4 linked regions of the Homo sapiens genome follow. The protein of the gene in region 1 interacts with the protein of each later gene in a pairwise test. Each region holds a gene or a part of one and is shown in the gene's direction. Other genes may lie near its edges.

Region 1 (6,999 bases):
ACCTGGTGGTGAAATACTGAACACTTCCTCCCCCAGGGTGGAACGGGCCAAGGATGCCCACTCTCACCATTCTATTCCACATCAAATGCGGGTCCTAGCTTGTGCCACCAGCTCTGTGATCTCTAGGGCATCCTTTGCAAAGGAGCCATTGGGACATGGATGCTTACATTCCAGGCTCCAAGCAAGCTCCTTTCCCCAGGCTCTTCTCCAGGGTGAGGCGAAGAAAGATGGGGACTGCACACCCATCGTGGATGGCTCAATCTTGTGACTTCCTTGGGGAAGACATATGAGAACACGTGTGTGCACATCACACCCACATGTCTCCCCTAAACAAAGAACAGCCTCCCTGGATCTATATTTAGTTTAAAAATCAAAAAGCCTTCTCAGTAGGTAGCTAGCATGATAAAGATGCCTTCTTCTTTTTTTGAAAAGATAGGATCTCAGTCTTGCTCTGTTGCCCAGCCTGGAGTGCAGTGATGCAATCACAGTTCACTGCAACCTCGAACTCCTGGCCTCAAGGGATCCTCCTGCCTCAGCCTCCCAAGTGGCTGGGACCACAGGAACATGCCATCATGCCTGGCTTTCTTGTTTTTTGTAGAGACAGTGTCTCACTATGTTGCCCAGGCTGTTCTCAAACTCCTGGGTTCAAGAAATCCTCCCACCTTGGCCTCCCAAAGAGCTGGAAGATACTTTCTTTATACCGGTCCGCAAACCACCTCATGTCCAGGGACAGGCACCTGCCCTCGGGTCACTAGAGGCAAGTTGTCCTTGTCTCACCCTGAGACCCTGGACACAGGTGCCCGCGCCCTTGAGGTCACCTCTGTGAGCTGGCTGAGGGTCTCCCTGCCAGGAGCTGCCACCATGCCAAGCTGGGGTCAGCCGTAGGTCAGCGCTGGGTTCAAGGGAGGCTGGAGAGTAAGGGTTGGGCATTATCATCTCCAATGTCCCTAGGCCCAAGAAAGGGGCTCCAGCACTAGGGGGCCAGAAAGCTTGACAGTGTCCCCTCCATCTCTTTAGAGAGACTTTGCTGGCCACCACCTCCTCCATTTGCAGAGGGAATTCTCTTCCTAGCCGCCTGTCCTTTGGCCCTCCAGCTAGCCAACCCGCAAACCATGCCACCTACAATGAGAGGAAGCAGTGATCAGCACAGTTGCCTGGTACATAGTAGTTGCTCAGTAAACAATTGGCTGGGTGCATGAGTGAATGAGAGGGCCAGTGAGTGGACTGGCAAGGGCATGGAGGCCTGGGTGCAGAGAGGCCCTACAGGCAGGCCCAGACATAGATGGGTGGGCCAACTTGGGCCAGGCTTACTGGTGGAAACAGGCTGGTGGGAGTGGGTGGAGCAGGGGCCAAGCAGCCTTTAGCTGGGAGGCCAGCTCCTCCCACTGGCAGCATTCCCAAGGTAGGTGGGGACCCTGGCTTACCACTCCACCTCCACCCCCAACTAAAGGACTAGCTGTCTCCTAGCCAGCCTGCCTCCCACAGTGCCAACAGCAATTCCCCTATCCAAGAGCTCTGAGCTCCGTGCTGGAGGTGACAGCTGGCCAGTGTGGGCTGGCTAGGAAAGGGTTCATCCCCCTTCCTTCTCCAATCTGACTGCCCCAATTTGCGCTCTCTCTCTGTCACCATCTTGGTTCAGCAAGAATGGCATCCATGCACTTGGCCTGATTGTAGGAGCTCATCCCCTGAGCGCTGTCCTCTGTTGGAGCTGGGATGGAGGCTTCTGTCCATGGCTGTCCTATTCCCTCAGGACCTACACACCACAACTTAGACAAAATTGCCTCTGAATCTGCCTCCTCCCCCCTTCTACATCACCAACTCCTTACAAGCAGGGATGCAGTGAGATGTATTTTTGCATGCCCCTCAACACTCAGGTGTCAACAAGTATTTGTGGAGTGTACACAAATTTCCAATAATAGGAAAGAAGAAACTGGCTGTGAATCACTGAAAATAGATGAGATTCTGAAGAGTCCTAGAGCCCAAAGCACTTGATAATTTCTAAAAGAATTGATTTCAATATATTTCTACCAGATTTATTGGTGGAAATAAAAAAGGCTACATTTAGGGAGGAAATGTGACATCAGGTAGCAGGCTGAATATGGAGCAAGACCCAGCAAAAGCATGAAGAAGAATCTCGGTAAGGTGTGGATGAGCTGTCTGTTTACTCTTGTTTCCAGAACAATGGAGCTCCCCATTGACGTCAATGGGAGGGAAGAAACAAAAGAGCCTTTGGGTGTGTGCAGGGCGCAGCAGCCGGGCCTGGGTTTGCTTGGCATTTGTGTGTGTATGTGTTAGGGAGAGGGGGCGGGGAGTGTGTCGAGGTGTCAATGTCAGAGGAACAGGAGGAGGGGCCACCTGACTGAGTGTGTGAACAGCATGCAGGCCTCCCGGGGCTTCTGTGGGAAGGGCTGCCCCGATGAACTTGGTATTTGCCCTGGTTTGCATCTGAGAAGTTGCACACACACCTTGTCAAGTAGAAGAGAAGGAGTTATCACACTCAGGAATTCCTGATGTGGGTTCATAACTTTTCCTTCTGTCCCATCCCTGGTCCCCAGGTGAGTCCAGGTAAAGAAGAACAAGAAGAGTAAAGAGAGATGCTGCGGGCTCCAGCTTCTTGGACAGTCTCGCCTTCCCCATGAGAGCCTACACATTCAGAGCCTGCTGCGTGGGAGCCTGAAAGCTCCTTCCTGTCCTGTAAGTCTCAGGCTTCTACCCAGACCCGGGGAAATTGTACTCTTTCTCCTGACACTTTAAATGGAAGTTTAGAGGCTCCACATGCCCCACACAATGCTTACCGAAACAAGGTGATGCAGGGTCCCGCGCTGTCTCCCAGGACAACCTCCTACCCCTGGCTCCTGCGTCTCTACGGCTTGCACCGTTGTAAGGCGTCCCTTTCTCAGGGCCCATCTTACCCGCCTTGGAAGTGCTGCCTTTCTCACGGAGCCTGTGGGGATAGCTCTGGTTAATTTATAGCCCACATCGCCCAATTTAGCATTTGATTAAGTTTCCTTTTTATGAGATAGTCCTTTCTCCCTAGTGATGCGCTTGGGGGCAGGGACAACATCATTTCTTTCTTTTGTACCTCCCCAGAGTAACAATGACTCTATTTCCTGAACCAAAAATTGCAACACGTGGTCTCAAAAATAAGAAAGGTCACTTGGTAGCTGCCGGGACAAGTGTCGACCACAGGCACCTCAGAGGCCCGGGTGGGCGTGCCCCCGGAGCTGCTGCAGGGCGGTGCTGCCACCTTCTCCTGGGCTGCTCCGGGGCCCCGCGATGAATGAGTGAGTGAATGAGTAAATGAATGAATGTGAATGCGTGAATGAAGCATGCCGCGCGGACTTTCCCGCGGCCCTGGCCGCTGGGGGCGCGCCTCTGGCCGGTGGCCGGAGGTGGAGGTCTCCCTCGTCCGGCTTCGGCGCGCCGGGTCTGCCAGGCCGGCCGGAGGTGCGCAGGAGCCCCGCGCCCAGCTCCCCCGCCCGCAATGGTACGCGCCACTCCGCGCTCCCCGAGCTGGCGGGCTTGAGGGCGTAGTGAATGGAAGGCGCCGACGCCGGAAGTGGATGAGACCACTAGGGAGGACGACGGGTAGCACGAACGCGCCGCGTCTCCATTGAGGAACCGACGAGGTGAACATGGAGTTCCATGTGCGTCTTATGTAAAAAGAGCGACGGGCGCGGCCACCAATGGGCGCGCGGCGTTCGTAGGCCCCGCCCCTCATGTATGCAGATGAGACGGAGTCGCGGCCAATGGCGGAGGCCGGGGGCGGGCGCGGCGCGCGCGGTCACGTTTTCCACTATGTGACAGCGGCGACTCGGCCGCGGCGGAGGCGGCGGCGCTGAGGGGATACGTGCAGCTGTGGGCGGCGGCGGCGGGCGCGGGGCCGGGCGGACAGAGCCGCGAGTCGGCGGAGGGACCGGCGGACGGGCTGACGCGGGCGCGGCCGGCGGTAAGTGGCGCGGCGCGGCCCCGCTGCGGCTTACGTAACCGCCGCCGGCGCGCGGGCCTCGGGCAGGTCGGGGTCCCAGCGCCGGCTCGGGCAGCGGAGGCGCCGCCGGAAGTTCCTTGGGCTGCTGGACTCCTCGGCTTGAAACGGCGCCGGCGTGGGGGCGTGTGCCCTTGGCCCTGTCCCAGGTGGAGAGTGGTCGAGCCGCGCGCAGGGTGCGCTCGTTTGAACTGCGGTGACACCGAGGGTTGGGGACTCGAACCCCCGCTTCGCAGCTCAGGAGCCTGAGGTCCGAAAGGTGAGGCAGCGTGTGTAGGGCACCGAGCTACCGAGTGACTGCGCGCGGGCTGCGGTTCCGTGGGCGATTCTCTTTTGGGAACCCTCCCTCCCCTCGCATGGGGAAGGCCAAGGAAACCAAGGGTCAGCGCAGCCGGCCCTGGGATCTGGAGGACCCTCGGGGAGCTGACTGCCTCTTCTGAGGCCACAGGGCTAAGTCCTGGGCTGGGGAAGGGCCATGGAGGGGCGCTGATCTAGGAGCTTTTCCTGGACACCCACGGGTCTCCTGGAATGGGTGATCAGAGGGACAAGGAAGTCCCGGTGCCAAGCCAGGCCTGGGAACCTGAGGGCGGGGAGACCCTCTAATGTTCGCCCCTTTGCCTCCCCTGGACCACCCTGTATTAATTCCCTTTCCCCGGACTGGATAGAAGGGAATGGGGGTGTCCACTCTTTGGTGCAGCAGTCGCGCCTACCTTCTGGGATGTACTTTGGCTGCCAAGTCCCAGACATAGACCAGGGGGTGGGAGGTGGCCTGCTTCCCCCTTCAGGAAGGCCAGGGTAAGGGATGACGAGTTGGTTGCCAGGGTTTCTGTAACCTACACAGAAGGAACCCGTTTGGAAAGCTGATTCATACAGAACAACAGAGCCAGAAGGCACCCTGAAAATCACCCAGAGTAACCCCTCAGCCTGACAGATGAGCAAACTGAGGCCCAGGCCCAGGCTGTCTGCAGGATCTTCCCATCGTCCTGGGGCAGGATGAGCTTCAGAGGTTCAGTGATGGCCTCCACTTGCGTGCTGAATCCTGGGTGGGCTGGAATTTGGGAGGAAGGGCCTTAAGTCCGGGAAATGTGTTAAGAACCCCACACGGTGGCTAAAGCCCCACATGGACGCCTCTCACCTGTATATGGCACAGCAGGACTGCTAGACTTCTTGGCCCACCCTCTACCCCCACCTGGGGCTTCTGGTCCCAGGCTGGGTGTGCCTGAGAAGAAAACAGGACTCTACCTGAAGGCTTTATTTGGAAATTGAGTTTTAAAATACAAGGTGAATTGATTTTTGTGTGCTATATGACTATAATGAAGAAAGGGACTCCGTTTTTTTTGAGTGGAAGCTGTGTGGTGTGCCAGCGCGGGGATGGCACCGTGGGTGTTTGCAGTTATCTGTCACTGTCGCCTTGGTATGATTCATTGGTACAGAACTAACGCAGCCCTGGCTTTCTGTGGAGACTGGAGTGCCAGGTGGGAAGGGGGAGCCCTGTGTCAGCCAGCTGGCTGCTGCTGGCTCCCAGTCTGGGCCTCAGTTTCCTTGTTTGTTTGGAGGGGCTCAGATTGGGCAGTCTCAGAGGTCTACTTTAATTCCCAGGTTTTTGGTTTTCTGTTACCCTACAGATGATTTTTCCCAGGTTTCTCGCAGGAGACAGAGGCTTCTGATATGCTCTTGCCTTTGGGCCAAGTAATGTTCTCCTGTGAGCCACGTCTGCAGTGCTTACAAGGAAAAAGGAAAGATTCCTCTCCTGTGCACTACTTCTCGTACCCACTGAACTTTCTCAAAAATACTGGTAGTCACACTGCTGTTTTTAAGCGATGATGTAACTTCACCAGGACTCGGCAAACCACGGCTCTGTCAGGTCATTGAACAGCTGGCAGGGCCACTTGGCGTTTAGTCAGAAGAAAGACAGGCTCTGGGTGTGCTTTTACCTTTTGAAAACTACTCTGTTTGGCAGAGGGAGCCAGAAACACACAATTCCATAAGCTTGGCAGAGACTGTCGCCACACTTCTGGAAAGCTGGCCCACCTTGGGAACCAAGGGAGAATTAGTCTAGAGGGGGCCTCTGATGGACCCCTCCCCCAGCCCACGCACTCCCCCCTAGGGACCAGGCCCTCCTTTCAACTCATTATGCTCATCGTGTACACATTTGTAACAAGTTTGTTACCATATCTCCAAGTCTAGAGCAAATTAGAAGCAGTAAATGAATAGCAGTGACTGGTGACAGGAGTCAAGGCCACTTGGTTTTCAGAGACTGGTAGTTCCCAAGACAGAGTGAGCTGCCGTGCTGAACCCTCACCGGCCTCGAAGGGTTCCTCGTGCTCTTCCTGGGGTGACATAGAGGAATCAGAATCCACTCTTTAAGAAACCAGGTACAGGAGGAGCAGATGCCTGAGCTTCCTGCAATTCGGAGTAGCTCAGTCCCTGACCACCGGGGAGCTAGGAGGCTGACACTTTTGCCTTTATTTGCTTTAAAGTCTTGTAGTTCTAAAAATGTAGGGATTTAAAAGTCTGAATTGAGATCATTGAAGGTGTCCTAGTGAGGCCAAGACAATGCCTCCCCGGTGCACCTCCTTCCCTCCATATTTGGATGGCTGCGGTCACATTTTCCTCAGTTACCCAACCGTTGCCATGGAGAGTGCGGCTGTTTATTTAGCAGGACAAACATTTTCTCAGGATTACAGCAGGCTGGCCTCAGGGAGTTGGCTCCTACCAGGAAGTAGAAAACATGTTAGAATATTTGGGGTTGTAAAATCCTGCAGGGCTTGCAGAGACAGTACATGCTGTATGAGCCCTATTATGTAAAGTTCGAAAACAGGCAGAATTCACTAGGCTGCAAGAAGCCAAGCTAGTGAGTCCCCGCGGGGTAGATGGTGGCTGGGAGGGCCACCAGGAGCCTCTGGGGGGCTGGCACTGTCCTGCCTCTGGTGACATGTGACATGGCATGTTGTTTGTGGATATACATCAAGCTGTGACCTCATGAGGTGGGACTCCTCTGGTGATTGAACACT
Region 2 (7,293 bases), on another chromosome or scaffold:
CAACCCAAAACTTTTTTAGATTGTTTTGGACTCTGCTTAACTTTGATGTAAAACGTCTGCAGATTCTTGTCCGCTCTGTAAAACAGAGGTGATCAAGAATGGCTTCTGCCCTTCAGATGGGCCATTTTCACAGTATCACAGGCAGGAGACTCTACGCCCCTAAGCAGATTTTGGGGCCATCAGAGATGTACAGTTAGTTTGGATCACACTTGGGTTCCTAAAACACCCTGGAGTTAATTCTCCAGAAGGGCAGTAGGGCTTGCAGAACCCTAAAGAGGCAGAAAACCTCTATTCCCCATGGAAACTTTAATCCTTTCAGGCAAGTTCTGTTTCTGTTGGAAATCCAAGACTTTGCAAACAGGATAAGGCCTTCTAAAGTCACAGGGTGAATATAATGAGTGCAGGACTTAGGATATTTAGGCAGGGGGGAGAATTGGCCTAAGTATTTCCTTTCATTAGTGTCTCTATAGGTAATGATTTCCTTACTTAACCAAAGAAAAGCAATGGAAGCAGCTACCCCTCGCCTATTAAAAGGAGAAAGATGGATATCTTTAATTGAAAGCAAAGCATCACAAAATTCTTTAATTATAAGCTCAAAGGGGCTTTGAGCTCATCTTGTATCTTCTTGGCTTTCAGCAGGATAGCATTAAGCTTTCCTAAAAAGATAAGACTCAACCTATTTTAAAACATATCCAAAGATGGCATTCTAGTTTCTGTTCCTTTGTTAGCGTACTTTTTTTCCCTTTCTAACCTCACCACAGGTGAACTTTTCCTATTACTAACCTGAAGTCTTCACATTAGAGCTTGGCTCAGTTTGCTCAGCAGAGCTGGTGAACAGCTGGTCACCATCAGCCTTTTCTAAACTGTACTTCCATCTGTCCATCTGTACAAAATTATAAGAGTTAATTAGGATATTTGGATTTAAATCAATAAATTTGAAGCTAGATGCCAACTGAATGACTCACTGACATGGCAAAAGACTGCCTCTCTTCTTGCCATAGCTTTTCTTATCTCTGTCATCAGCTCCAATGCTAACACCTCTCCCTTTTCCATCTCTCTTGCAAAACTCCCCACACAATTTCATTCACACACACACACAAATGTGCACACTTATACTGGTAAATAGAAAAACATCCCTGAAGCAGCTAGTTAACACTTATACCTTACCACTCACTATTCACATTGAGGTGTAAGAGTCGTCCAGGGTCCAGACTCTCGAACCCACTGTCTGGGCTTAAATCCTGGCTCTGGGACCTTGGAAATATTTTGCAATCTCACTTTGTAAGCATTTTCTCATCTGTAGAATGGAAACAATAATAGTATCTACCTTAGAGGGTTGTGGAAATGATTAATGACTTAATACATAAAAAGCTCTTTGAATGCAGTCTGGTACTCTAATCTTAAAGGCTATATAGTTGTTAGCTATTGTTACACCCTTCTTGCGCAAAGGGATATTCAGAGGCATCAAACTATGCCCAATATTCCAGAAGCCAAGAGTTTGAGAAAGAACAGGAATGGGATTCAAGTTTAAGGGAAGTGGGTAACCAAGAAGAGTCACCAGGGTGAAAGATCAAAGAAAAAAAAGGGCAAAAAGCAAACAGGAGATTGACAGAACTACAGAGAAATGGCAAAAGCTGGCATTTAACAGGGAAAAGGTAGACAGAGAACATAAGGGAAAGGAAGATAAAGAAGAAATGAAAAAGGGAAACATGAGTTAAAAGGTGAATATGTAAAGGAAAGACAGAAAAGAAGAGGAAAAGGGGATCAAGAACAACAAAGGAGATAAAAATTGGGAAAAGACCCCATTTGCAGTTTGAGTAGGTATCACGGGAAAAGGGTACGGAAGTGGGGAAGCTTGGGGCAGAAAGGATGGGGGGAGAGAGGAGCCTCAAAGAGATAACAGAAAAAAGCTTCATGTGTCATTTGCAGCTTTTTGTCCCTTTAAATTATGGGGTGCTGCAAGCTTATTTAACCCACCTTTGAGCCTCAAGGCTCCTGATCGTGTTCCTCCTATTTCAACTTGCATTTAATCTCTGCCCCAGACTTAGCTTCTAAGGTTTGCCCTGGTCAGATGTCTGCCTTGTGTTTTTAGCCCGACGAGGCCAAAATGCAATGATCTTGTCTTTATTTCATTTTCCCTAACCAGTCATCCTTTTCAAGTGAAATTTAGCTCTGGAGCAAATATTTACATCCCCTTTCTACTCCAAACATTCAGAAATCTAGAAGGGGACCTGGTGTTTTAATTTTTAAATTATTCACCTAACGGCATTCCCATTTTTAGTCAATTAAAAAGAGGTAAAAATGATACAGTACTGCAGGAATAGGTCGCTTTTAGGGCTCCAACGTGCCCTCCCCATCGAAGGGTCTTAATTACCTAACCTTTTGGAAATAGGAGAGAGGTCGGACCGAGATTTAAAATAAAGTCAGCATTTTAAAAATACTTTTTAAATTAAGAACCATCGTGATTAAATTGCCTGTTTGGTGCAAAATACGTTCCTCTATTTGAGGAAGTCGAGAGACCTTAAAAGGCCCTCTAAACAGATGAACTGAACGGACCGCGAGCGTCTCCTCACGCCGGGGTGATCCTGGGCCGCCGCCGCCGCCCGAGTCACGAAGCCAGACGCAGTGCGCGTCTCCGCCCAGGACTCCGGAGACTGCAGCAGCGCGAGCGGCCGCCGCGGCCCGGGCTGCTCCTGGAGTCGGGGAGGAGACGCGACTCCCGCAGACACGTGACCTCCTCCCAGCCGCCGCTTCCCGCGACCCAGATCCGTCCCCGGAACCCGTGCCCGGCGGGGCGGGCCGGGGGACACGTAGCGGGCGCCCCAGTCCCTGCTGCGCCCTGGTGCATGTACCTTTGGCGTTCTTCTCCCCTCGGTTCACTTATCACCGGCAATAATCAACGTTTCAGAGATCACCCCGGGGAGAATGTAAATATCCCTCTCTGTGCAGGAAAAACCTTGGTTTTTTTCTCTATGTCTTTATGTATATCTAGAGAAATATATATATAGCCTCCATCCCACCCCTGGGAGTCCCTCAGGACATGCCTTCCCCTGGGCTGGCAGGGCGGCGTGGGCAGTGCGCATCCCCGGGCACCTCCCGGTAACTCTCACTAGCAGTGAGTCATGCTCCCAGGGTGGCTCTGGGGAAAGGTAACCCGGCTCTTGCTGGCCTGTGATTCCCGGCGCCGAGCGCCGCGGCTGCAGGGCGAGCGCGCGCGCGCACGGGTTCCCCGAGCAGTGATGTGGCAGCAGCGGCAGGTCGGATCACGTTGCTGGCCCTGTGCTGGTACCCGTTTGAGACCGGATTAAGGAGGGAGGCTTTGGAGGTGCCAGCGGTAGTAAACGTGGGCTCTGCACACTCCGGGCGTCTCTTATCGCGCGGGGGGGCGGGGGGATGGGGAAAGCACGTAGCGTCACCGGAGGCTCAGAACGCGGCAGAGTTGAGCGGGCGGGTGATAAATGCTGCATAGCTTTTCTGTGGTAGCCCCTCTCGTGCCACCCCCTCTCGTGCCACCCCCTTCTCCCTTCCCAGCCCCCACTCAACCCCGGCTCGCTCCCCGCCGCGTTCCTCCAGGAGCACACGCGGCCCCAAACGTCGTCATCTGCTGCTGTGATTAGTGGCACCGCAATTCCGGCTGCTGCGGGGAAGTTTAGTTGGCCCAGGGACGCCGTGTCACCGAAAGACACTTGGATTGCGACATTCGGACCCAGTGACAACGTTTTCATGTATCTTAAATCCTTCAAGGAGCGGATTGCAAGTTGCTTCTTCTCGAGGCAACCTCTCCACCCAGCGCCAAGGAGTCCCTCCAGGCCACTGATCAGTGAGCAAACAAGTCTCCAAAATTTCCTTTGGGACTCAAGTTTACCCACCGCGAATTCTCTTTTCACTTCCTTTCTATGGTTCAAACCAACAGCACAATCGGTGGAAAAGCAAAAAGCCACGTTCACATTCCTGCACCGTAACAACGGACGAACCCAGGGAGTCGCATTTTGGAGCCAAGGAAGCTCAGGCTGCCCCGCACCCCTGCACCCCCACTCCCCCCTCCTCCTGCCGACTGCATCGCCTTTGGGAAGATGAATAGCTTGGCCGAAGTTGTTTTTCCTTTCCGGTGGCCCTGATCAGGTGTCCCCGCCCCCTCCTGCCGTTCGCCTTCTCTCGCCGCCTTCTCCCGACGCCCCCGCCCGGCCCGGCCCCTCCTCCCCCGCCCCCCTCCGGGCTGGACCGCGGATGGTACGTTCCGCACGTGAGCTGGGTGCTGGTCTGGCCGGCGACGCGCGTGCCCTGTGGCCAAACACTGCCTGGAGTGAGAGCAAACTACCAGCGCAGTGGGGCCGGCGCGAGTGTGCGTGTGTGTGCGTGTGTGTGTGCGAGCGCGGTGGAGGGGGGGGACCAACTGCTTCACACTTTCAACACTGCACTGAAGAGGGAGAGCGAGAGAGAGACTGGAGACGCACAGATCCCCCCAAGGTCTCCCAAGCCTACCGTCCCACAGATTATTGTACAGAGCCCCAAAAATCGAAACAGAGGAAACGAACAGCAGTTGAACATGGACGAAGGAATTCCTCATTTGCAAGAGAGACAGTTACTGGAACATAGAGATTTTATAGGGTAAGGTGCACGCACCCTTGCGAATATCTGTCTAGGCTTTGGTTTGATTTTTTTCTTCTCCAGAAAGTGGTATGGAGCTGGCGAGGGCAGAGCCCCTCCCCGAATGGGTGCCTGATGCTGATTTCTGTTTTGCAGACTGGACTATTCCTCTTTGTATATGTGTAAACCCAAAAGGAGCATGAAACGAGACGACACCAAGGTAAGTGTAAGTTCCCGATATTCCTCATAACCTGCATGGGTAGTTAATTAGAGCCATTGATTTCACAGTGAAGCTCTGCCCGCAAATATATTCCAGCCCCTGAGCTTCCCCAACTGTGAATTTTAAGTGGCTTGCTGGGTACTCTCAGGGGGATATTAAACATCATACCTGAATTTAAATTGCATTGCAGAACAGTCCAGAGGAAAGAGGTTTCTTGGGTGTAGTTTATCACATAGTATGTTTTATGGTGGGGGGGCGGGGGGGGCAGACGAGGGTAATATCCAATAAGTGAATGTTTCGCTTACTGTTTTCTCTTTTCCATGACTCTCATATATTAAGGATACCTACAAATTACCGCACAGATTAATAGAAAAGAAAAGAAGAGACCGAATTAATGAATGCATTGCTCAGCTGAAAGATTTACTGCCTGAACATCTGAAATTGACAGTAAGATGCACATTTTCATTCTTTGCTGCTCTCCAAGGGCGTGTTAATAGTCTGGTGCGACTCCCAGAAAATATAAGAATAAATGTAAATATAAGTTCCTGACTTAAAACTTGTGCTATACCGTACAGAGTTTCCCGCAAACTGGAGTAGGTGCTCCCAGCTGAAGGCAAGAAATCATTTATAACCTGTCTTGTGGAAAGCTCAAGAAGTAAAAGAACAGTACTTCTTTCAAAGTGTTTGCTTAAATTGCTGTGCTGAATGGACAGCCAATTAAGCCAAATGTGTGTTTTTAAGTAACCAAGTGCCCGTTTCTTTTTTGCACCACTGCAGACTCTGGGACATCTGGAGAAAGCTGTAGTCTTGGAATTAACTTTGAAACACTTAAAAGCTTTAACCGCCTTAACCGAGCAACAGCATCAGAAGATAATTGCTTTACAGAATGGTAAGTCAGTTCAGGGAGGCCAGCCTACCCTGATGAAGCGGGGCAGCCCACAGGGGAGCAGTGTCAGGACTCCCTCACCCGCACCCCATCTCTTTCCGTGGGCTCATGGGTTCCCTCTCATTTGTTAAATTGCTTATACTTTCCCTTCATTGGAACGAGCCCATTTCCCGAAGCATCCTAGAGGCTTTCAGCAGAACTCGGAGGAATCAGGATTTAAAGTGGCGGTTGCACCCGCTCCACTTTGGTTTTCAGCTGGGAGGAGAGCGCCCTCTCCCCGCTCCGCACCTCCGCCACCCCGCTTCTCTCGTCAACTGGTGGATTATATCACTTGAATACTGGGGAAAAACCGAGATCACTTTAGTCGATGCAGGGCCCACGTGATAAGCAGATGTTTTAACGTGGGTATGTTTCTTCTTGCCTCCACTCCTCCGTCCCCCACCCCCATCCCTTCCTCATCCTAGGGGAGCGATCTCTGAAATCGCCCATTCAGTCCGACTTGGATGCGTTCCACTCGGGATTTCAAACATGCGCCAAAGAAGTCTTGCAATACCTCTCCCGGTTTGAGAGCTGGACACCCAGGGAGCCGCGGTGTGTCCAGCTGATCAACCACTTGCACGCCGTGGCCACCCAGTTCTTGCCCACCCCGCAGCTGTTGACTCAACAGGTCCCTCTGAGCAAAGGCACCGGCGCTCCCTCGGCCGCCGGGTCCGCGGCCGCCCCCTGCCTGGAGCGCGCGGGGCAGAAGCTGGAGCCCCTCGCCTACTGCGTGCCCGTCATCCAGCGGACTCAGCCCAGCGCCGAGCTCGCCGCCGAGAACGACACGGACACCGACAGCGGCTACGGCGGCGAAGCCGAGGCCCGGCCGGACCGCGAGAAAGGCAAAGGCGCGGGGGCGAGCCGCGTCACCATCAAGCAGGAGCCTCCCGGGGAGGACTCGCCGGCGCCCAAGAGGATGAAGCTGGATTCCCGCGGCGGCGGCAGCGGCGGCGGCCCGGGGGGCGGCGCGGCGGCGGCGGCAGCCGCGCTTCTGGGGCCCGACCCTGCCGCCGCGGCCGCGCTGCTGAGACCCGACGCCGCCCTGCTCAGCTCGCTGGTGGCGTTCGGCGGAGGCGGAGGCGCGCCCTTCCCGCAGCCCGCGGCCGCCGCGGCCCCCTTCTGCCTGCCCTTCTGCTTCCTCTCGCCTTCTGCAGCTGCCGCCTACGTGCAGCCCTTCCTGGACAAGAGCGGCCTGGAGAAGTATCTGTACCCGGCGGCGGCTGCCGCCCCGTTCCCGCTGCTATACCCCGGCATCCCCGCCCCGGCGGCAGCCGCGGCAGCCGCCGCCGCCGCTGCCGCCGCCGCCGCCGCGTTCCCCTGCCTGTCCTCGGTGTTGTCGCCCCCTCCCGAGAAGGCGGGCGCCGCCGCCGCGACCCTCCTGCCGCACGAGGTGGCGCCCCTTGGGGCGCCGCACCCCCAGCACCCGCACGGCCGCACCCACCTGCCCTTCGCCGGGCCCCGCGAGCCGGGGAACCCGGAGAGCTCTGCTCAGGAAGATCCCTCGCAGCCAGGAAAGGAAGCTCCCTGAATCCTTGCGTCCCGAAGGACGGAGGTTCAAGCA
Region 3 (7,022 bases), on another chromosome or scaffold:
GTCAGGCCCTGGCCAGCATCAGCAAGTCAGGAGCTGCCGGCGGCTCTGCCAAGTCCAGCAGCAATGGGCCTGTGGCCAGTGCACAGGTGAGAAGGCCTCATGGGGCTGGGGTACCCTGAGCCAGAGGTTGTGGGAGGGACACAGTCTGGCGTCCTGTTGTATCATTCAGACGGGGTGCTCTGAGGGGAAACATGAAAAGACGTTCCAGGGTATCTAAATCTGAACGGGAAAAAGTTCTGTTTCCTTGAGGAAATTAGGGCGTGATGTGGTTCTGAAGAGGGAGGCCATGCCCATGCCCCTGGTCTCTAACGTGCGTGAGTCTCATGGTAGAGACAGTGGCTCACTTTGCAGATACATGGACCCAGTTTCATCCCTTGGCAATTGGCCACCAGTAAACAGGCTTGCCCTTTGGGGGCCGTGTGCCTGTGGATTTGGGCTGCTGACGGCACATGTGCCTCTGCTTCCACAGTACGTGTCCCAGGCAGAAGCCTCAGCTTTGCAGCAGCAGCAGTACTACCAGTGGTACCAGCAGTACAACTATGCCTACCCCTACAGCTACTACTATCCCATGGTGAGTGCCCAGCCAGTGGGGCGGGGCAGGGCGAGGTGGAGTCTGCTGGGTCGGGGCGAGGTGAAGTGGAGTCTGCCGGGATGGGGCTGGGTGGTGGATGGACTGGAGATCGCAGTGATAACTGCTCAGAAACCCTCTAACTTGCCCAGGAGGTAAATTCCTAGGTCCCCGCCATGAGCCACAAGGTCCTACATACCCGGTTCTGGTCCCTTCTCTCCTCATGCTCATTCTGCCATGGCCATCGAAGCAGAGACCTCCTTGATGCCCGCACCCGCCAGGCCCGCTCTCGCTTTGCCCTGGCTGCAGTGCTCCCTGTGTTGCCGCCTCTTGGAGGTCTCTGCTCAGATGCCGCCTTCAGAGAGCCTCTACCTGACACACTGATTGAAAGTAGCATTCCTGCCTCGCAGCCTGTCCCTCTCCCTTTCTTTGCCATCTTATTGTTTCATGATCCTTATTGCTGGATGTATTACATGTTGATGTCTCCAGCCGGACATGTAATTCCAGCACAAGCTTCATTACAGCATGGGTTTTCCTTTTGTTCTGTCGTAGTGCTTAGAAGAGTTGGCACTCAGTATCGTTGATTATATTCTTCCGAGAACTAGCTAAGTGAGATGTGGGATTGATAGAGGTTTTTCTTTTCCTAATATATGAGAGGATGTGGTGCATTAATATAGTGAAGAGAGAAAGGGGTGAGGGATTGGTAGAGGGTCATGGCTGGTGTAGTTCCTGAGCAGGCTGGGGAAGCGGAAAGGGTAGGCCTCCCACTAAACCCTCCCTCCCTGCGCCTTTGCAGAGCATGTACCAGAGCTATGGCTCCCCTTCCCAGTATGGGATGGCCGGCTCCTATGGCTCAGCCACACCCCAGCAGCCATCCGCACCCCAACACCAAGGGACTCTGAACCAGGTAACATCCTAGCCCAGCTCCCATACCCTGCTCAAGCAGAGGAAGTGTAGATTTTTGAATGAGCTGTCAATGAGGAATGGCTTGTACTCCTTAAGCTGCTTTTTTCCTTCCAAGCAACTCCTGATCTGAAAATGAGGAGGACAGAGCATAGTGTTTGAACCTGGGGTGGGTTTAAGGCTGAGCCAAGGCCAGGGCTGAGATGTTGAAAGACATCTCATCTTTTTCCCTAGCATGGTCACCCACAGGCGTGCACACACCGGCTGGGTTTTGCATTGAATGTGCAGCTTGGAGGAATGGCCGGGCTAGTGCACAGGAGGCAGGTAGACCTGGGTTTGAATCCCAGCTGTCCCACCCCTGGTGTAATTACGCATCTCGGTCAGCTCTCGAAAGCGGGAAGGATGGTAGCCTCATCCTTGGGCTCCATGAGTGTGTGTGCTCATGGGTGTCTTGTGCTCAGATGGTAGCGCTGGAGTGGGTGTGTTGTCGGTGGCTGTTACTCCAGCATTGAAACGCTGCCAGCTGCCGCTTCATAGCTTAGGGCCCTGGGAAGTCGCTTAGTCTCTGAGCTGGAGCCTTGTCAGCTGTGAAAAGGGCTGTTAACAAATGTTAACCTCACAGAGTTACTGAGGACTCGAATGAACTCACATTTGGGAAGGTCACGGGAGGGTTGAGTGCTGAGTGCTGTGACCACTGCGTCCTCACAGCGAGGGCTGAGTGCCACTCGCCAGCCCCAGAATCTGCCTCCCGTGCTCAGCGCCTGCTTCCTTCTGCAGCCCCCAGTCCCCGGCATGGATGAGAGCATGTCCTACCAGGCTCCCCCTCAGCAGCTGCCGTCGGCTCAGCCCCCTCAGCCCTCAAATCCCCCACATGGGGCTCACACGCTGAACAGTGGCCCTCAGCCTGGGACAGCTCCAGCCACACAGCACAGCCAGGCGGGGCCCGCCACGGGCCAGGCCTATGGGCCACACACCTACACCGAACCTGCCAAGCCCAAGAAGGGCCAACAGCTGTGGAACCGCATGAAACGTAAGTTGGCAGAGCTACGTGGAGGTCCGAGCGGTTGGGCCCTCATAAGAGCTCCTGGGTGTGAGGCCCGTGGTGTGTGCTGCTCCTTGTTTCTGGGTGTTGTGATCGCCAGGCTGGGGGTGGGGCTGCTCTGGACCAGGCACATGTGTGCTGGAGCCCTCCTCTAGAACCTGAGCGCTCCTCCCTGCATTTCCACTTCCTCCCGTCCCCTGGGGACCCCTGGATGTGCCGGGGAAGGGCCTAACCATAGCTTTCGCTGCCCTCACAGCCGCCCCTGGGACTGGAGGTCTCAAGTTCAACATCCAGAAGCGACCCTTTGCTGTTACCACCCAGAGCTTTGGCTCCAACGCAGAGGGCCAGCACAGTGGTTTTGGCCCCCAGCCCAACCCTGAGAAAGTTCAGAACCACAGGTGACGTCTGCCCCCTTGCCCCGTCGCAGCCCCACACTCTGCACTCAGCGTCTATGGTCCAGTCCCACTGGCCAGCTGCCCACCCTGAGCCTCAGTGTGCGCCTCTGAAAAGGGCAGAAGGACCCTCTCTTGGGGGTTGCTGTGAGCACTGAAGGAGACAGAAGGAAAACTTGGGGACTGCGTCCCGCTGTGTCAGCTCAGAGTGGCGGTGGGGATGGTCTTTTGAGTTTGGGATCGTCTCCAGCTGAGCCCCTCATCTGTCCTCCCGCAGCGGGTCCTCTGCCCGGGGGAACCTGTCTGGGAAGCCGGATGACTGGCCCCAGGACATGAAAGAGTATGTGGAGCGCTGCTTCACCGCCTGTGAGTCGGAGGAGGACAAGGACCGCACGGAAAAGCTGCTCAAGGAGGTGCTGCAGGCGCGGCTGCAGGACGGCTCGGCCTATACCATTGACTGGAGCCGGGAGCCCTTGCCGGGGTTAGTCTGGGTGGGGGACATAGGTGGGAGGGTGGTGCTGTGAGAGGCATGGGCTGGGTATGGAGGTAGGAGAGTTGCGGGTCCCAGGTACCAGGAGCTCCAAAGAGAAATGAACTGGAAAGTTGGATCCTGGGGGGATGAAGTCCTGGTTGGAGGGAGGCCGGTGGGGTGGGGTGGGGACCATGGGTGCTGGAGAGGCGTGCATTGCTCAGTGGTTAAGCGCACCCTCTGGAGACGGAAAACCTGGGTTCGCGTCTCATTTCTGCACTGTAGTAGCTGAGCCGCCTGGGGTAAGTGCCTTTCCTTTCGGAGGCGGGTCGGTACCTTGAGGGAGGTGGTGGCGGCTGTCCTGCCAGTGTCTGGCGGGGTTGGTGACGCCCTGCCCTGCTGTATTCTCAGGCTGACCCGGGAGCCTGTGGCTGAGAGCCCTAAGAAGAAGCGGTGGGAGGCCGCTAGCAGCCTTCACCCTCCTAGAGGGGCAGGCTCGGCGACAAGGGGCGGGGGTGCCCCGTCCCAGCGAGGGACGCCCGGGGCTGGGGGTGCCGGTCGAGCCCGGGGCAACAGCTTCACCAAGTTTGGCAACCGCAACGTCTTCATGAAGGACAACAGCTCTTCTTCCAGCACAGACTCCCGCTCCCGCTCCTCCTCCAGGTCCCCGACGCGCCACTTCCGCAGAAGGTACTGAGGCTCCCGGCTGGGGCTGTGTGTGAGGGAGGGGGAGGCGTTTCAGGCCTGACCCTCCTGCTTCTTCCTGCAGTGACTCCCACTCAGACTCCGACAGCTCCTACTCAGGGAATGAGTGTCACCCTGTGGGCCGCAGGAACCCGCCCCCTAAGGGCCGGGGCGGTCGAGGGGCCCATATGGATCGGGGCCGAGGCAGGGCGCAGCGTGGGAAGAGGTGAGACTGTGTGAGGGCTCGACACACGGGCCAGGGTGGAGGAGGGTACTGGGGACCCATGGGAGAAGGAGGAGGAGGGCCGGACAGGTGGACAGCCAGCTGCCAAAGGGGCGAGGCTGAAGGGGGGCTGGAGACGCCTGTCGCGCTCACTGCCCCTCATCCCTTCCTAGGCACGATCTGGCGCCCACCAAGCGCAGTCGAAAGAAGATGGCGGCGCTGGAGTGTGAGGACCCGGAGCGAGAGCTGAAGAAGCAGAAGCGGGCAGCCCGCTTCCAGCACGGACACTCCCGCCGCCTGCGCCTCGAGCCCCTGGTGCTGCAGATGAGCAGCCTGGAGAGCAGTGGGGCTGACCCTGACTGGCAGGAGCTGCAGATCGTGGGCACCTGCCCTGACATCACCAAGCACTACCTGCGCCTCACCTGTGCCCCCGACCCGTCCACCGTGCGCCCTGTGGCAGTAAGTGCCCAGCAGGGCAGTTCTGCTCTGTGAGGCCGTGCTGGCTCAGGACTTGGGGAGCCAACCCAGGGAGGGTGGCAGAGGCCACACGGGGGCTCTGGTATGGCAGGGGAAGCTCGGCCAGAGACGCCTCGGCTGGTCGGCATTCTGAGAGGAGCGCAAAGGCGCTCTGCTGCCCTGGAGCCCCGCGTGGCGGGTGTGCAGCTTGGCCGGCGAATCGCTTGACCTCTGGGCCGTGGTTCCTGGCTTAGGTGACACGGAGCATAAAGCCTTCTCCCAGGCCCGTGGGCTGTGGGGCGTGGGGGGCTGTGTTTCCAGTGTTTGGCGTAGTCACTGTTCTGCTGCAGAACCTGTGAACAGCCATGTGCTTATAGGGAAATGGGTGTGGAGGTGGCCACTCTTAACCCATGTCTTGTGGGTTTGTTTTCTCTTTTTTTGGGAGAGAGTCTGGCTCTGTCGCCCAAGCTGGAGTGCAATGGCGTGATCTTGGCTCACCGCAGCCTCCGCTCCCCGGCTTCAAGCGATTCTCCTGCCTCAGCCTCCCTAGTGGCTGGGATTACAGGCGTCTGCCACTACGCCTGGCTGATTTTTGTATTTTTAGTAGAGACGGGGTTTCACCATGTTGGCCAGGTTGGTCTCAAACTCCTGACCTCAGATGATCCACACACCTCGGCCTCCCAAAGTGCTGGGATTACAGGCGTGAGCCACTGCGCCTGGCCTTTTTTTTCTTTTTTTAATGTTGCAACTCTCCCACCAAATAAGTGGAAGCCGTTGGCCACGCTACCTGAGTTGTACTCCGAGTGTGAATTCAGTTCCCTTTTTCAGGTTTTGAAAAAGTCGCTGTGCATGGTCAAGTGCCACTGGAAAGAGAAGCAGGACTACGCGTTTGCCTGCGAGCAGATGAAGTCGATCCGGCAGGATCTGACGGTGAGACTCGCGCTGGGAGGGGCCTGGCCTCAGCCAGTCCTGCCTCCCGCTCCTTGTGACTCTTGTTCTCGCCCCGCTGCCCCAGGTGCAGGGCATCCGCACCGAGTTCACGGTGGAGGTGTACGAGACCCATGCCCGGATCGCCTTGGAGAAGGTGAGCTGGCCTCTGCGGGCCTCCCCAGCCCCTTTCCTGCTGCCGTTCTGCCCTCAGCACCCTCACTCTGCTCTCCTCCCTCGGTGCCTCTGCCTTCCAGGGTGACCATGAAGAGTTTAACCAGTGCCAGACGCAGCTCAAGTCGCTGTACGCCGAGAACTTGCCTGGCAATGTGGGCGAGTTTACTGCCTACCGAATCCTCTACTACATCTTCACCAAGAACTCGGGAGGTGAGGCCCAGTCCCCAGGACAGAGGCCATGGTACCCAGGGTTGAGCCCTGCTGACTTCACCCTCTTTGTCTTGGTGCTAGACATCACCACGGAGCTGGCATACCTCACACGAGAACTGAAGGCAGATCCTTGCGTGGCCCACGCCTTGGCATTAAGGACAGCCTGGGCCCTGGGCAACTACCACCGCTTTTTCCGGCTCTACTGCCATGCACCCTGCATGTCTGGCTACCTCGTGGACAAGTTTGCAGATCGGGAGCGCAAGGTCGCCCTCAAGGCCATGATCAAAACGTATGTGGTGCCAAGCTCCCTTCTGCCTTTGCTCTTCCCATCCTTCCGCCTCGCACCGCCCCTCAGACCAGCTCCTGGCCGCAGGCCTCCCCCAGCCCCCAACCCTTGTCCTGGTCCTTGCTTCCCCATCATCTTTCTCCATTCAGCCCTCCCCTCTCCAGTTCCTCTTGCTCTCCTTGTTGGTCACCTCTGTGTTCCGGGTCACTCCTCTCCCTCTCCCCACTGTTCCCAGCTCACTGCCTCTGGGGCCTCTTCTCCACCCCATCTGTGTGTCTCTTCCTCCTGTTCTCTCCTGCCTGGACCCCCTAGTTCACTCCTTGCCCTGGGCTTCCTCAGAACCCTGAGGTCTCTGCTTTCTCAGCTTGTCGCTGTGCTCCCACCATAGAGACCATCTAGACAGCCTCTGGTCTACCAGGACAAGGCCCAGTCCCACTCAGCTCCTTTGAGAGCACCAGAAACGCTTAGGGAGACACCTGTGTTGAGGCCACACTGGGCGCGGTGCCAGAGGCCCCTGGTCAGGCCATGCCCCTGCAGTGTCCTTCGTTCACTAGACATTGCGCCTGGCTTGCTGTGGGTGGGGATGAGTTGCTTGACTCATGTTTAGACGCATGGTTCTGTCTGGTGATTGAGGTGCCCAGGCGACGCTGGGCAATGTCAAGAGAGGTTTTCGCTTGTCACAGCA
Region 4 (7,038 bases), on another chromosome or scaffold:
CCAGGTCCTGAACTTTATCTGTGTTATCTCAGTTGATCATCACAACCACTCAGTAGAGTAGATATTAGTATTCCTCTTTTTTGGGGTGGGGGGACGGAGTCTCACTCTGTTGCCCAGGCTGGAGTGCGGTGGTGCGATCTCGTCTCACTGCAATCTCCACCTCCCAGGTTCAAGTGATTCTCCTGCCTCAGCCTCCCGAGTAGCTGCCACTACAGGCGCGTGCCACCACACCCGCTGGTTTTTTGTATTTTTAGTAGAGACGGGGTTTCACCGTGTTAGCCAGGATGGTCTCGATCTCCTGATTTGGTCTCATGATCTCGGTCTCGGTCTCATGATCCACCCACCTCGGCCTCCCAAAGTGCTGGGATTACAGGCGTAAGCCACCGCGTCACAACCACTCAGGAGAGTAGGTATTATTATTCCCACTTTACAAAGAAAGAAATGGATCAGATAGATAGGTTAAGTAAGCTTGCCTGGGGAACAGCCCTGGCTGGAGGGAAAGGTTCTGACCTGACTCCACCCAGACACCCCCACTGCCACCCCAACTGCTTAGGGGAAGCTGTGAGGAAATCCAAGGCCACTCCTCCCAGGAGCAGTTCACTCAGCATTCACAGCCCTGAGGCTCTGTGATGGGGGCCCTAGCATTGCTGGAGGAACATCCTGGGTAGCTAAAGTACAGAAACATGGGAGTGAGGAGGTCCTAAGAAACCCTCCAGTGTGCAGATTGCTCTGGCCCCAAAGCACTTCTATAAACACTAGTCAGAGGCCAGGTGTGGTGGCTCATGACTGTAATCCTAACACTTTGATAAGTGGATAAATGTGGGAGGCTGAGGCGGGCAGATTACCTGAGCTCAGGAGTTTGAGACCAGCCTGGGCAACATGGTGAAACCCCATCTCTACAAAAAATGCAAAAATTAGTTGCATGTGGTGGCATGCACTTGTAGTCCCAACTACTTGGGGGGCTGAAGCAGGAGGACCTCTTGAACCCAGGAGGTCAAGCCTGCAGTAAGCTGAGATCACGCCACTGCACTCCAGCCTGGGTGACAAAGTGAGACCTTGTCTCAAAAACAAAACAAAACAAAAAAATCCACTAGTTAGGACAGGTATTATTGCCCCATTTTTACTGATGTGGTAGCTGAGGGCTGAGATTTCCCTCAGGGCCTACAGCTAGTAAATGGCAGACCACATTCTTATAAGTGATTCTGCCCCAGCATTTAAACCCTTCTTGCCACCTCCAAGCCTGTGTGACTATAAATGTTAATTGGTAGAGGAGAGGTACAAGCAGGGTCACTGTGGAAAGTTCAAGGCCAGGAGCTAGGGTCAAACTCCCACTGTTCCTCCACCCACAGTGGCCTTTGTGACAAGAAGGGGGAGGGGTGGGGACTGTGAGATCTGGAGGCTACCGAAGGTTACAGAGCCTGGGCTGTCCTTTTTCAACGGTTGAGGCACAACCCATCCCTGAGTCACTCCAGTGGGTTGAGGCGTCCCCAGGCATGGAACCCCCTAGAACCCAAAGAAAAGTGGTCCCTAATCACTGGATCAGGCATCCCAAGGAGAGGGCCCTCCAAGGATGGGGCTGGGGAAGTGTGTGCCACCGCAGACTACCCAGGCTCCACATATTTTCCACCTTGACCCCCAGGCCCTCCCTGAAAGGGCAGATTTGTGCTGAGCTTTAAGTGGTTTCTGTGGTTTAGGGTTGGGGAAGGAAGGAAAGAGATGCTGGGGACTGCTCCCCAGTTCCAAGCCACCACCACCACCTCCCATCCCTTCCAGAGTGTTTGCCCCCAGCATGGAGATTTCCCCAATAAGGGGACTGGGCACGTGGGGATGAAATGATTCTCTGATCCCTATCAGCCCCTTCCTTATATAAGATTGTATTTGAAGAGGAAATAACCACCGCCCTGCTTTGAAAGGACGATTCTTCCAGATAAGGGGCTGTGATTGCAGCAAGAGGGAGAAAGTTTAGACAAGAGGGGGAACTTCCCATAAGGATAACCAAGGGATCTTCTTGCCCTGGGGAGAAAAAAAACTCAAACTATCCATGCTTAGGGCAGGGGAGAGGTAGAGAATGCCTAGGAAGCATGTGACACTCCTAGGCCTAGAGGTCAGGATACTGTCTTCTAAATCTCCAGTCACTTCCTCCCCACCCTACATAGTAGCACAAAGTGGCACAACTGGGGAGTCAGCTGTGCCTGCAGTGTCTGGGGATGCTCTGTGTCCATCCGCAAGCATTCTACGTGACCTCCACTCTGTGCCTGCAATTGGTGGGTTGTAGAAGAGGTAGTCACGAAGGGCCCCTGGGAGACCCAGAGTCAAGAGGAAGAGAGGCCTAAAAAGGAGAAAAGATAGAGAGGGGACAGCTGGAGAAGAGCCACAGACAGGCAGGAGCCAGCAAAGAGAGACAGAGAGATGGGGGATAACTGAGGAGTTCTGGGGAGGAGGGGAGCAGAACGGCATCTCCCCTGCACTCCCACGCCCGGCATGTTGCTGGCTCCTCCTGTCAGCTGGAGGGTGCTGGGGGGGCGGGGGGGAAGGGAGCTGCAAAGCACTTTACCTCTCACTCCAAACCTGCCCAAGGTGCAGAGCCCCCAAACAGACCAACATCCTGTTCTGTGCAGAGATGCATACATGGATGCGTGGGCCCACATTTACCAAAAGAACACGGGGGATAATCAGAGCCTCAGAGGCATAGGCACATACCCTTAGACTCAGTGCAGAAGGTCCCCAAAACTTCCCCTCCTCTTTCTCACTACTCATCCACTGTCAATGACCCTAGGAGTTGAAAAGTCCTTCTCCACTTCTACCTTTATCTCTCAATCTGCAGCCATGGGGAGACTCTGGGAGCTACCTAAGAACAGAGGTGCTGATGGTAGCAGAGTGTGAAGCTCCAGGGTTGGGCAGGAGTGGAGGATGGCGAGACGAGACGGCAGAAGAGGGAAGGGACAGCTGCTTGCCCTCTCCATGCCAGGTGCCACGTGCACCAGGTGGGGGGGAGTGGGCGAGTCACGAGGCTGTGGCATGGCTGACTCCTGCTCTGCTGTTTACCAGCTGGGAACGAGAGCAGGAGGAGGTGCCAGGGAGCCTCTTGCTGCAGCCTGGCCCCTGGCCAGTTGCTTGTTGGGTAACCAGGAGAGTCAGGCCCAGCTAATCAAACTCTGGGCCCAGGCCATGCAGGAGAAAAGCAGCACCAGGATCCCCAGAAGCCTCGTCCTCTTGGCCCCCTTCAGAGCCTTCACTGCAGGCCTCAGTGTGGGCCACTAGGTCTGGGAGCCTCTCCTTCTCCCAATGAGTCCAGTGCAGCATCTCTCCTCTCCTCTTCCCCACCATGGCTTCTCTGCCTCCAGGCACTCCTCCAGGCCTGCCCCTTGCCCCAACAGATGAGGAGCACGTAGAAGCATCAGGGGGTCAGGGAGTCCTGGCAAGAGCAGCAAGGGTTAGGGGCAGGGGCCGAGCAGGCAGAGGCCTCAGGGAACTGAACAGTCACTGGGAGGAGTCTGACTGCATCCTAGAGAAGAGACACAGTCCCCCAAACCTGCCCTCTCCATCTCCCCTATGCCTGTCACCTGTCTTAGGTAGAAATCACAGGATTCTAAAGTCACAAAGACTTGGGTCCAAATCATAGCTCACCCATTTATTGTTCTTGTGTGAGTCCTTGGGCAAAATCATTAATATCTCTGAGAATCCCTCCACTCACTGATCAATCTGGAATAATAATGTTTCCCTGTGGTGGGTGCTGTGAATATTTACACAAAGTAAAAGCATGGATTTACATAAAGTGTCCTGCAAAGGGCCCAGCACACAGTAAGTGATTAATAAATGCTAGTTCCCTTCCTTTCTCCTGTCCTGTTTCTCCTCAAGGCTCCATGCACTGGTCCACTGGTCTCTCCTCATGTCCCCTCCTGGTGCCAGGACACTCTGCCAGCCACTCCTTTTCCCTGCCTGCTGGAGGGCCAGGTGCTCCCGCCTTCCACCCTCCGCCCTCCTCCCTCCCCTGGGCCCTGCTCCCTGCCCTCCTGGGCAGCCAGGGCAGCCAGGACGGCACCAAGGGAGCTGCCCCATGGACAGGGCCCCACAGAGACAGCACCGAGCCTCACGGGGTAAGAGGCCCATGGCCCTGCCTGCAGGTGGAAGAGACTGCTGGAGGTTCAGAGGAGGGCAGAAATGGCAAGAGACTGGGCAAGAAGTGAGGAGGGGAGGGAGGGACAAGAGTGCAGAGGAGAAAGCCCTGGGTTGGCAGGGAGTGAAACTGGAGGAGAAACAGGAGGAGGGGCTGGGGAGATGACAGAGGAGAAGAAATCGCAAAAGGAGAGAAACAGGAAAGAAAGGGAGAAGCGGGAGAAGGAAGAAACAGGTTGGAGGGTAGATGGGGAGGGAAGAGCCAAGTCAGGGGAGCCAGATCTAGACCCAGCGAGGGGTCAGAATGTGGACAGGCCCTCCCAGGTGTGGGCTTACCCCCCAGGAGGCACAGGGACACTGCTTCCTTGATCTGGCCAGGACCCCAGACAGCAGTGGCCGGGAGGCTGGCTGCTCCACCTTCTGTTCATTCACCAGTGGAGAAACCTGTCCTTTAAGGAGTGACAGACTTGGGGAGTGTGGCAGGGGGAACCACACCCTGTCAGCTGCCCATGACCACGTAGCCTGGTCCTTTCCTCGCCACTCACCCAGGGATGTGGGATTTCATCTCTGCAGAGAATGTGGGGCACTGGGCCATCAGCAGGGAAGGACAGAATGTCAGGCCGTCCTTGGCCCCACCCATGGTCCAAGTCAGGAACCCCCTCAGAGCAGGATCGCAGGGCCACAGGCTTGGTCAGCTGTGAGCATGGAGGAGGAAAGTTTGAGGGCCAGAGCCACCAAGCTCCAGGGCCACCTGGTGGAGGAAGAACTGGCTGCCTGGGTGAGCAAGGGGAGCACCCCCACCACAGGACTGCTCTGAGGTGCAAGGCTAGAGGCCAGGAGCCGGTGCCACGTCAGGGAGGAAGCTGGGTGGGGCCAGGCAGGAGCAAGGGGAGGTGGGCGGGGCTGGGTGGGGCCTTGCCACCTCGGGGCAGTCTTTTCTCCTCCCTCACCCCAGCAGAGCCCAGGCCATCAGGCCACTCGCCTCCACACAGCCTAGTGACCACGGCCTGCCAGTGGGGAGCATCTCCCGGGCAGAAGGGCACTGTGTGTGTGTGTGTGTGTGTGTGTGTGTGTGTGTGTGTGTATGTCAGGTGTCAAGACTGAACAGCAGAAGGAAAAAAATAACAGAATAGAGTCAGAGGTTAGGGAAGCTATAGGGGGTATAGGGCATGGTTGAAGGGCTTTCTGAGACAAAAGACTGGCCATGTGTTCTGTGATGAGCTGCTATGTGGATGTAGGAAATGGGCCAAGGTCTGGCAGGGGAATCCTCTTTCCAGGGGCTCCCTGGCTAGGTGTTTCATAGATGTTAACTGCATGAATGGGTGACACCCCCCCACCCACCAACCATGCTCCAGCTAAGGCCCTCCCCTCAACGGCTGCTCCCCCTGGAGGTCCGAGTATCCATGTGACCCCCATCGACCCACTCATGCTCCCTACTGCCCAATCTCCACCCAGACCCGGCCACGCAGCAGCAGCAGAGAAGGGAGGCCTTCCTCTTCAGGCTGGTAGGCCAGGGAAGCCTGGCCCGTGGAAGCCAGAGAGGGGTCTGTATTTGCAACTCTCCCCTCCTCTTCCTCCAAACATCCTCTCCCCCTACTCCCAACCCCCACATCTCTGAAGCCCTGGTGTTTTCAGGCATAGATAAGCAACCAAGAGATTTCAGTCCCACAGAGATTTAACTCTGGCTGTAGGATATTTCTTGTGCACCTCCAATGAAATTACAAAGTAAATAAGACCAACACAGTCCCTGCCTTCACAGGGCTTTACAATTTGGCAGGAAAGACCCATTTCATAGACAATGACACAATTACAGCAGTTAGGTGACAGTTGGTGACATGGTGAGTGCCAGGAAATAAAATGCAAGGAGCTAAATGTGTCAGCACAAGGGCAGGGGAAGGGGGTGTGTGTGGCTTCTCCAAGGAAGAAACATAATCAGAGACCTGAGGGAGAAAGAGAAGTTGGCTAGATTAAGGGGTACAGGAGGGACAGGCATTCTAGGCAAAGGAGCAGCTTGGGGGAGTCCCAGAGGCAGTGAGGAGCCTGACACTTCTGGGTACCTGGAAGAGGGCCAGTGTGGCCCAAGGGCAGAGGAGGAGAGAGGGGCACTGCAGGGGGTGGCCTGCCTGCCCTTCAGACGCCAGGCTCTGAGGGAAGGAGTGCGGCAGTGGGATCCTAGGAGTGGGGAAAGTGTCTCAGCCCCTCATGATCTTCAACCTTTGACGTCAACCCCCTCTCTTGTCTTTACAGAGCTGCTGGCTGCAAAGAAGACCCACACCTGTGAGTAGGGGGTCCGGGGCAAGAAAATGGCTGGGGCATAATGAGATGGAGAATAATTCAGCAAGTGATCTGTGGGGGGACTGAGGTTGGACAGAGGTGGAGGAGTCAGGAAGAGATGGCAGGCAACAGGAAAGCAAGGGGAGGTGCGAGGAAACCACAGATCAGGGCAGTGGGAGGAGATGAGGAAGAAGCCTGAAGCATGAAAGGAAACACTGTAAAGAAACCAGGAGAGAACAAAGGAAAAGGGAACCGCCTTGTGAAAAAAGGCGAGGAGAAATGCTGGACAGAGGCAGGGAGATGGGAGGGGGTGGGGCCGACTGCCAGGCCGGGGAAGGAAGGAGATAGAGGTAGGGGGGTGTGCGGAGGCGGGGTGGCCTCAGGAACTCAGGAACTCAGCGCTGCTGCCAAGGGAGACAGGGAGCCTGCACCAGGCTTTTTTTTTTTTTTTTTGAGACAGAGTCTCACACTGTCGCCTGGGCGGGAGTACGATGGCACAATCTCGGCTCACTGCAACCTCCACCTCCCAGGTTCAAGCGATTCTCCTGCCTCAGCCTCTCGAGTAGCTGGGACTACAGGCACCCACCACCACGCCTGGCTAATTTTTGTATTTTTAGTAGAGACGGGGTTTCACCATGTTGGTCAGGC

Evidence for each region.
Region 2: the proteins of PER2 (region 1) and BHLHE41 interact in a two-hybrid assay, tested with the Homo sapiens proteins (one study listed by BioGRID).
Region 3: the proteins of PER2 (region 1) and LENG8 interact in binary tests that used the Homo sapiens proteins (3 or more experiments, as listed by UniProt).
Region 4: the proteins of PER2 (region 1) and RORC interact in a two-hybrid assay, tested with the Homo sapiens proteins (one study listed by BioGRID).

Annotation. Positions count from the first base shown.
Region 1 is NC_000002.12:238,285,594-238,292,592, reverse strand, and holds the start of PER2 (period circadian protein homolog 2), read left to right. Parts: upstream 1-3,982; 5' UTR 3,983-4,244; intron 4,245-4,695; exon of another isoform or gene 4,696-4,724; intron 4,725-6,999. UniProt on the Homo sapiens protein: Transcriptional repressor which forms a core component of the circadian clock.
Region 2 is NC_000012.12:26,122,033-26,129,325, reverse strand, and holds the start of BHLHE41 (class E basic helix-loop-helix protein 41), read left to right. Parts: upstream 1-4,288; 5' UTR 4,289-4,546; coding exon 4,547-4,608; intron 4,609-4,743; coding exon 4,744-4,807; intron 4,808-5,146; coding exon 5,147-5,254; intron 5,255-5,584; coding exon 5,585-5,696; intron 5,697-6,157; coding exon 6,158-7,260; 3' UTR 7,261-7,293. UniProt on the Homo sapiens protein: Transcriptional repressor involved in the regulation of the circadian rhythm by negatively regulating the activity of the clock genes and clock-controlled genes.
Region 3 is NC_000019.10:54,452,182-54,459,203, forward strand, and holds part of LENG8 (leukocyte receptor cluster member 8), read left to right. Parts: coding exon 1-86; intron 87-469; coding exon 470-571; intron 572-1,364; coding exon 1,365-1,475; intron 1,476-2,248; coding exon 2,249-2,501; intron 2,502-2,769; coding exon 2,770-2,911; intron 2,912-3,182; coding exon 3,183-3,386; intron 3,387-3,785; coding exon 3,786-4,064; intron 4,065-4,143; coding exon 4,144-4,284; intron 4,285-4,454; coding exon 4,455-4,740; intron 4,741-5,565; coding exon 5,566-5,667; intron 5,668-5,752; coding exon 5,753-5,821; intron 5,822-5,921; coding exon 5,922-6,051; intron 6,052-6,132; coding exon 6,133-6,340; coding exon of another isoform or gene 6,341-6,725; exon of another isoform or gene 6,726-7,022.
Region 4 is NC_000001.11:151,828,784-151,835,821, reverse strand, and holds the start of RORC (nuclear receptor ROR-gamma), read left to right. Parts: upstream 1-4,019; 5' UTR 4,020-4,057; coding exon 4,058-4,097; intron 4,098-4,689; exon of another isoform or gene 4,690-4,692; coding exon of another isoform or gene 4,693-4,894; intron 4,895-6,363; coding exon 6,364-6,393; intron 6,394-7,038. UniProt on the Homo sapiens protein: Nuclear receptor that binds DNA as a monomer to ROR response elements (RORE) containing a single core motif half-site 5'-AGGTCA-3' preceded by a short A-T-rich sequence.